Linked DNA regions of Homo sapiens: region 1 is linked to region 2. The links come from fine-mapping of genetic effects on gene expression. A gene starts in region 2. The other region holds a variant in brackets. All regions are shown on one strand. Distances are between the middles of the regions.

Region 1 (4,395 bases), 38 kb before region 2:
CAAGTTTCTACTTTTTTTTTTTTTTTCCAGACAGAGTCTTGCTCTTGTTGCCCAGGCTGGAGTGTAGTGGCGCAATCTCGGCTCACTGCAACCTCCACCTCTTGGGTTCAAGCAATTCTTCTGCCTCAGCCTCCTGAGTAGCTAGGATTATAGGCGCCTGCCACCACGCCCAGCTAATTTTTTGTATTTTTAATACAGCCAGGGTTTCATCACATTGGCCAGGCTGGTCTCGAACTCCTTTTTTTTTTAAATTTTATTATTATTATACTTCAAGTTTTAGGAAACATGGGCACAACTTGCAGGTTTGTTACATATGTATACATGTGCCATGTTGGTGTGCTGCACCCATTAACTCATTTAGCATTAGGTCATTTAGCATTAGGTATATCTCCTAATGCTATACCTCCCCCCTCCCCCCACCCCACAACAGGCCCCAGTGTGTGATGTTCCCCTTCCTGTGTCCATGTGTTCTCATTGTTCAATTCCCACCTATAAGTGAGAACATGAGGTGTTTGGTTTTTTGTCCTCGTGATAATTTGCTGAGAATGGTGGTTTCCAGCTTCATCCACGTCCCTACAAAGTACATGAATTCATCATTTTTTATGGCTGCATAGTATTCCATGGTGTATATGTGCCACATTTTCTTAATCCAGTCTATCATTGTTGGACATTTGGGTTGGTTCCAAGTCTTTGCTATTGTGAATAGCGCTACAATAAACATACGTGTGCATGTGTCTTTATAGCAGCATGATTTATAATCCTTTGGGTATATACTCAGTAATGGGATGGCTGGGTCAAATGGTATTTCTAGTTCTAGATCCCTGAGGAATCACCACACTGACTTCCACAATGGTTGAACTAGTTTACAGTCCCACCAACAGTGTAAAAGTGTTCCATTTCTCCACATCCTCTCCAGCACCTGTTGTTTCCTGACTTTTTAAAGATCGCCATGCTAACTGGTGTGAGATGGTATCTCATTGTGGTTTTGATTTGCATTTCTCTGATGGCCAGTGATGATGAGCATTTTTTCATGTGTTTTTTGGCTACATAAATGTCTTCTTTTGGGAAGTGTCTGTTCATATCCTTCACCCACTTTTTAATGGGGTTGTTTGTTTTTTTCTTGTAAATTTGTTTGAGTTCATTGTAGATTCTGGATATTAGCCCTTTATCAGATGAGTAGGTTGCAAAAATTTTCTCCCATTCTGTAGGTTGCCTGTTCACTCTGATGGTAGTTTCTTTGCTGCGCAGAAGCTCTTTAGTTTAATTAGATCCCATTTGTCAATTTTGGCTTTTGTTGCCATTGCTTTTGGTGTTTTAGACATGAAGTCATGGCCCATGCCTATGTCCTGAATGGTATTGCCTAGGTTTTCTTCTAGGGTTTTTATGGTTTTAGGTCTAACATGTAAATCTTTAATCCATCTTGAATTAATTTTTGTATAAGGTGTAAGGAAGGGATCCAGTTTCAGCTTTCTACATATGGCTAGCCAGTTTTCCCAGCACCATTTATTAAATAGGGAATCGTTTCCCCATTTCTTGTTTTTGTCAGGTTTGTCAAAGATCATATAGTTGTAGATATGTGGCATTATTTCTGAGGGCTCTGTACTGTTTCATTGATCTATATCTCTGTTTTGGTACCAGTACCATGCTGTTTTGGTTACTGTAGCCTTGTAGTATAGTTTGAAGTCAGGTAGCGTGATGCCTCCAGCTTTGTTTTTTTGGCTTAGGATTGACTTGGCAATGCGGGCTCTTTTTTGGTTCCATGTGAAGTCTAAAGTAGTTTTTTCCAATTTTGTGAAGAAAGTCATTGGTAGCTTGATGGGGATGGCATTTAATCTATAAATTACCTTGGGCAGTATGGCCATTTTCACGATATTGATTCTTCCTACCCATGAGCATGGAATGTTCTTCCATTCGTTTGTATCCTCTTTTATTTCCTTGAGCAGTGGTTTGTGGTTCTCCTTGAAGAGGTCCTTCACATCCCTTGTAAGTTGGATTCCTAGGTATTTTATTCTCTTTGAAGCAATTGTGAATGGGAGTTCACCATGATTTGGCTCTCTGTTTGTCTGTTATTGATGTATAAGAATGCTTGGGATTTTTGCACATTGATTTTGTATCCTGAGACTTTGCTGAAGTTGCTTATCAGCTTAAGGAGATTTTGGGCTGAGACGATGGGGTTTTCTAGATATACAATCATGTCATCTGCAAACAGGGACAATTTGACTTCCTCTTTTCCTAATTGAATGCCCTTTATTTCCTTCT[C/T]CTGCCTGATTGCCCTGGCCAGAACTTCCAACACTACGTTGAATAGGAGTGGTGAGAGAGGGCATCTTTGTCTCTTTTGATCTTTGTTGGTTTAAAGTCTGTTTTATCTGAGACTAGGATTGCAACCCCTGCCTTTTTTTGTTTTCCATTTGCTTGGTAGATCTTCCTCCATCCCTTTATTTTGAGCCTGTGTGTCTCTGCATGTGAGATGGGTTTCCTGAATACAGCACACTGATGGGTCTTGACTCTTTATCCAATTTACCAGTCTGTGTCTTTTAATTGGAGCATTTAGCCCATTTACACTTAAGGTCAATATTGTTATGTGTGAATTTGATCCTGTCATTATGATGTTAGCTGGTTATTTTGCTCGTTAGTTGATGCAGTTTCTTCCTAGCCTTAATGGTCTTTACAGTTTGGCATGTTGGTACCGGTGGCTGGTACCAGTTGTTCCTTTCCATGTTTAGTGCTTCCTTCAGGAGCTCTTTTAGGGCAGGCCTGGTGGTGACAAAATCTCTCAGCATTTGCTTGTCTGTAAAGTATTTTATTTCTCCTTCACTTATGAATCTTAGTTTGGCTGGATATGAAATTCTGGGTTGAAAATTCTTTTCTTTAAGAATGTTGAATATCGGCCCCCACTCTCTTCTGGCTTGTAGAGTTACTGCCGAGAGATCAGCTGTTAGTCTGATGAACTTCCCTTTGTGGGTATCCCGATCTTTCTCTCTGGCTGCCCTTAACATTTTTTCCTTCATTTCAACTTTGGTGAATCTGATAATTATGTGTCTTGGAATTGCTCTTCTTGAGGAGTCTCTTTGTGGCGTTCTCTGTATTTCCTGAATTTGAATGTTGGCCTGCCTTGCTAGATTGGGGAAGTTCTCCTAGATAATATCCTGCAGAGTGTTTTCCAGCTTGGTTCCATTCTCCCCATCACTTTCAGGTACACCAATCAGACGTAGATTTGGTCTTTTTACATAGTCCCATATTTCTTGGAGGCTTTGTTCGTTTCTTTTTATTCTTTTTTCTCTAACCTTCTCTTCTCGCTTCATTTCATTCATTTCGTCTTCCATTGCTGATACCCTTTCTTCCAGTTGATCACGTTGGCTACTGAGGCTTGTGCATTCGTCACATAGTTCTCGTGCCGTGGTTTTCAGCTCCATCAGGTCCTTTAAGGACTTCTCTGCATTGATTATTCTAGTTAGCCGTTTGTCTAATTTTTTTGCAAGGTTTTAACTTCTTTGCCATTGGTTCGAACTTCTTCCTTTAGCTTGGAGTAGTTTGATCTTCTGAAGCATTCTTCTCTCAACTCGTCAAAGTCATTCTCTGTCCAGCTTTGTTCCGTTGCTGGTGAGGAGCTGCGTTCCTTTGGAGGAGGAGAGGCGCTCTGACTTTTAGAGTTTCTGGTTTTTCTGCTCTGTTTTTTCCCCATCTTTGTGGTTTTATCTACCTTTGGTCTTTGATGATGGTGACGTACAGATGGATTTTTGGTGTGGATGTCCTTTCTGTTTGTTAGTTTTCCTTCTAACAGTCAGGACCCTCAGCTGCAGGTCTGTTGGAGTTTGCTGGAGGTCCACTCCAGACCCTGTTTGCCTGGGTATCAGCAGCGGTGGCTGCAGAACTGCAGATATTGGTGAACCGCAAACGCTGCTGCCTGATCGTTCCTCTGGAAGTTTTGTCTCAGAGGAGTACCCGGCCATGTGAGGTGTCAGTCTGCCCCTACTGGGGAGTGCCTCCCAGTTAGGCTACTCGGGGGTCAGGGACCCACTTGAGGAGGCAGTCTGCCTGTTCTCAGATCTCCAGCTGCGTGCTGGGAGAACCACTACTCTCTTCAAAGCTGTCAGACAGGGACATTTAAGTCTGCAGAGGTTACTGCTGCCTTTTGTTTGTCTGTGCCCTGCCCCCAGAGGTGGAGCCTACAGAGGCAGGCAGGCCTCCTTGAGCTGTGGTGGGCTCCACCCAGTTCGAGCTTCCCGGCTGCTTTGTTTACCTAATCAAACAACTAACTCGGCAATGGCAGGTGCCCGTCCCCCAGCCTCGCTGCCGCCTTGCAGTTTGATCTCAGACTGCTGTGCTAGCAATGAGCGAGGCTCCGTGGGCGTAGGACCCTCCAAGCCAGGTGCGGGATATAATCTCCTGTTGTGC
Region 2 (4,395 bases):
ACACATCATCCCTAAGAAGTAGATTAAGAGTAATAATGGCATTTACTGAGTTCTTACTATGTGCTAGGTTCTGGGATAAGGACTTTATATACTTTATCTCACTGTTGTCCCTGTTTTCAGAAAAGAAAACTGAGCTCCGAGCAATGAAGGAAGTTGCAGATGCACATAAAACTTAAAATGGCAGAGGGAGGAATCAATGCAGACATGGAGTTCTGAAGCTTTTGCTGTTGCTCTCAGTGCATTTCTAAGGAAACCCAACGGTATCCATTTCATTGACCAATTGCTTTGTACCCAAAATTTTATTTTTCATAAGAGTTTTTCATTTTCTGACAAAAACTATTTGTTAAATAAACATAACTTCATAATTCTGATCACATCACTTGGAGCAAATTTGACTGATACATTTTAAAACACATGGATTAAAAAAAAAACTCCTTCTTTCCCGAAAAAGGAAAAAAGGAATGTATTTTTCATATTTTCATCTCCAATTTAAGGAATTCATTTTTGGAACACATATTATGCTTTAAATGGTGGTGCCAGGTAAAACTGCAAGGAAGCTTGTGCTATCTGGAGACACCCATACTTTTTTTTTTTAAGGACCATTTTGTAACTTTACAACAGCATATTGCATTTTTATATTCATGTGCCTGTCTCCTTCATTGTCCTGTGTATTAGTTTTCTACTGCTGCATGAAGAATTTAAACAGACCTAACAGCTTAAAACAACACCCATTTAATAGCCCACAGTTCTGAAAGTCGGAAGTCCCAGCACAGCCATGGCATCACTGGGTTCTCGCTCAGGTTCTGCGAAGGCTGCAATCATGGTAATAGTCAGGCTCAGTTCTTGTCTGGAAAAGACAACAAGTTTGAGAAAAAAATCTGCTTTTCAAGCTCATTCGGGTTGTTGGCAGAATTCAGTTCCTTGCAACATTGGCCTAGGCAAATAATTTATGACTAAAACCCCAAAGGAAGTGCAACAAAAACAAGAATAGACAAATGGGCCTTAATTAAACTAAAAAGCTTCTGCACAGTAAAAGAAACAATCAACAGAGTAAATAGACAACCTACAGAATGAGAGAAAATATTTGCAAACTACGCATCTGACAAAGGACTAATATCCAGAATCTACAAGGAACTCAAACAACTCAACAAGAAAAAAAAAAAACCCATTAAAAAGTGGGCAAAGGACATGAACAGATATTTCTCAAAAAAGACATACAAGTGGCCAACGAACATATGAAAAAATGCTCAACATCCACTAATTATCAGAGAAATGCACATTAAAACCACAATGAGATACAATCTCACACCAGTCAAAATGGCTATGATTAAAAAGTCAAAAAACAGCAGATGTTGGTGAGGGTGCAGAGAAAAGGAAACATATATACGTGTTGGTGGGAATGTAAATTCGTGCACAGTGCCTGGTTCAGAAGACACACTTTACAGAAAAAAGCTGGCTGAATGTTTATAACGTGTCTGTGTTTGTAGTGTTCAAGTCCTGAGGGCGAGGACCCTAGTGCATTTTCTGCAATCCAGTAATGCCTGTCCAGTATATGGCAGCCAGTGAGCACTCAACAGGTGCAATCGTTGGGCCACACACTCTTGTTTTAAAATGTGCTTTATCCTCTTGACCTTTTTAGGTTATGCAATGTGAATTCAAGCTGAATAATACTGAAGCCAGTCTTATGAGGCTCATTTCTAAGAAATATTCAGCTTTACGTAACGCAAATAAAAAATCACACACGCCCTTTGCAAGTGAACATTCATATTAGTGTCTGATAAATGCATTAAGAAGACACATTCCCTTAAATCAATCGGAGAACAGAACTTTGGTTTCTGCAAAAAGAAAAGCTCCCTTTTCCTTAGATTTTCTCAGCTCCTCCACTGCTAGCCCCAGACAAGGTCCAAGTTATCTGCAGTTCTATGGCCTCCCTTGCATTTAAATCGCATTTGGGCAAACGCTTCCTGGGCTTTCTAACTCCACAGAAACGCTAACCAGGTATTGGGCGCTCGCACCGCTTCCAGGTAACCCGCGGAGCTGCGGATTCCAGGCTCGCGCTGTGACGTCACCGGGCTCGCAAGCCGCGGCGCGGTCTCAGGCTCCGGTGATTGGCTGGGGCCCATGACGTCACGGCCCGGGGCGGCACCGCGATGGCCAGGGCCCCGGGATGCTCCGGGTTTGTTTAAAAATAAAGGGGGGGCGGGAGCGCCCAGGAAAATCCGGGCGCCCGCGGGGGTGCCGGCCGCTCCTCCCGCCGCCCCGCGTCCCGGCCCGGCCGCGCCAACCCCCACGGCGGCCCGCAAGGGGGCGGGGGGAGGCGGGGCGGAGGAGGAGCCGCGGGCGCGGCGCCGCGCTGTCCCCGGCCGCCGCCCGCCCCACTCCGCACCGCATGTAAACAGTCCCAGCCGGCCCAGCCCGGCCCCGGAGGAGCCCGCGCAGGCCGAGCCGAGCGCCGCGCTGCCCGCCCGGGAGGAGGGCGCCTAGGAGCGGGAGGGCGGGCGGCGGCGGGAGGCGGGCGCGGGGCCGCGATGGATTTCCAGCAGCTGGCCGACGTTGCGGAGAAATGGTGCTCCAACACGCCCTTCGAGCTCATCGCCACCGAGGAGACCGAACGCAGGATGGATTTCTACGCCGACCCCGGCGTCTCCTTCTATGTGCTGTGTCCGGACAACGGCTGCGGCGACAATTTTGTGAGTGCCTGGAGGAGGGACCGCCGGAGCCGGCGGGAGTGTGGACGCGGCGGTGCGTCCCTGCGCCCGAGCTCCCGCGCGGTGGGCGGCGGTGGGCGCAGAGTGGGGGGCCGTAACCCGCGCCCCGCGCCCCGCGTGCTCCGCCGGGGAAGCCCCGGGCCGGGCGGTGCGGGCTCCGCTGCCCGGGTGGGGCCCGGTGGGCGGCGGGCAAGGCGCCCGGAGGATCCGGGGAGCCGGGTCGGGGCGGGAGGTGTGGCGTCCCCCTAAAGGCCACTCCTCTCCCCGCTGCTGCGGGCGCCGTTTCGGGAACCCGACCTCGCGGCCCGTGCGCGGTGCCTGGCATGGAGCATCCCTGGGGTGTGGGTGTCACCCGCGTCGGACCAGCCGGGTCTGGGGCGCACGGACCCTCCGGCAGGAGCCCAGGTCCGGAGCTTCCCACATCCAGGCGTCCCGTCCGGGATAGGAATCCCGCTCCCCTCCGGTGCCCAGCCTCGGCTCCTCGCATTGCCCCTCCCGGGAGAACCCCACTCCCCGCCCTCGCGGGTTAGTCCTTGCACTGCCTGTTTGGACACAAAGCTCTGTCCATACTAGCGATGCCCGATCTCCTGGACCTTCTTTGCGGAATTACACCCCGGATCTTAATACGCACGCGCGCCTGCGCATACACCCCAACACACACACACACATGCTCACACCCTCACCCTCACACGCGCACACTCACGCGCACACGCGGCACGCCTCTCCCCCTGCCCCCGCGCTGCCCTCGCTGCCTCTCTGAGCTGCCCGAGAGGTGTGTGTGGCCCGGGCGGGTTCTCTCCAGCCGAGGCGGTGCCCTGGCCCTGCTGAAGCCCGTTGGCTTTTCCAGATGACGGGGAATCCCCTCAGCCCCGGCTCAGAGGGACCGGGAACTGGGACTGCGGTGTCCAAACCTTCCACTTTGAATCCTGCACCCACCTGGGATCCCGACTCTGGCAGTTGAGGAAGGGGATGCGGAGGGCAGGGGAGTCGGGGTGGGAGGGGTGGAGTAGGGCGAGCACGGTGCTCATGAAGTGTTTCCAAGGTCGGGGAATAAATAATGATCCCCAAATGTAAGATGGAGGCGGCCGTGGGCGCGGGTGACCGTGTGGTCGCGGGCCTTGTGGGCGGAGGTGGGGTGGTGCGGGGCGCGGCCTGGTGCACGCTCCTCAGGTGGGGGAGACAAAGCTGGGCCGTGGTCCTGCCGCCGAGCGCCCTGACCACCTACGGGAAGTTCGCGAAGGAGTTAGGGAGACTGCAAGACCGCCTTTCTTGGTCCTGGAGAGGTGAAGGCTTATGTATGCCTGGCCGATAAAGCATTCCCTCCGCCCACACGCACCCCCTGAGGAGGGCAGGGATCCACCTGGGCATTCCACAAGTGGCACTCCAGAAGAGGGATGGCCTTGTGTGACAGCCAGATTTGAGTTCTGGCTCTGTGACTGTGCTCAAATACCCACCCTGAGCTCAGTTTCCACATCCAAAAAAATAGGTATAATAATGCCAGCACCCAGGCGTTCATATAGGTAACGCACCGAATAGTCCCTAACACACAGCAAGAGCCCCACAAATTTGGGGTTAGAGACCTGGGGTTTCCCAGAATTTAGAGCTTGTCTCATTTTTTAAAGAGCCTTGGTTTTCCCACCTGTAAAATGGGGCTAATCAGAATACCTCCAGAAGAGCCAACTGAACA

The links. PIP is the estimated chance that this variant, and not a neighbour inherited with it, causes the effect.
Region 1: its variant is the best candidate, but not a certain one, in a credible set for the expression of MTURN in whole blood (TOPMed, PIP 0.78).

Annotation. Positions count from the first base shown.
Region 1 is chr7:30,094,265-30,098,659 of GRCh38, forward strand. It overlaps a transcript of PLEKHA8 not described here. Among named protein-coding and RNA genes, the nearest start is that of MTURN, 39 kb to the right of the region's middle. The variant C/T (reference allele first, on the strand shown) is at 2,260.
Region 2 is chr7:30,132,609-30,137,003 of GRCh38, forward strand. MTURN (maturin, neural progenitor differentiation regulator homolog) reads left to right here and starts at 2,378. Exons shown (of 3, transcript NM_152793.3): 1 at 2,378-2,690. The coding sequence starts at 2,529. LOC105375216 (a long non-coding RNA gene) reads right to left here and starts at 2,106. Exons shown (of 3, transcript XR_927146.3): 1 at 1,996-2,106; 2 at 709-847. RefSeq lists silencers at 2,276-2,525, 2,296-2,673, 2,866-3,005, 3,326-3,505.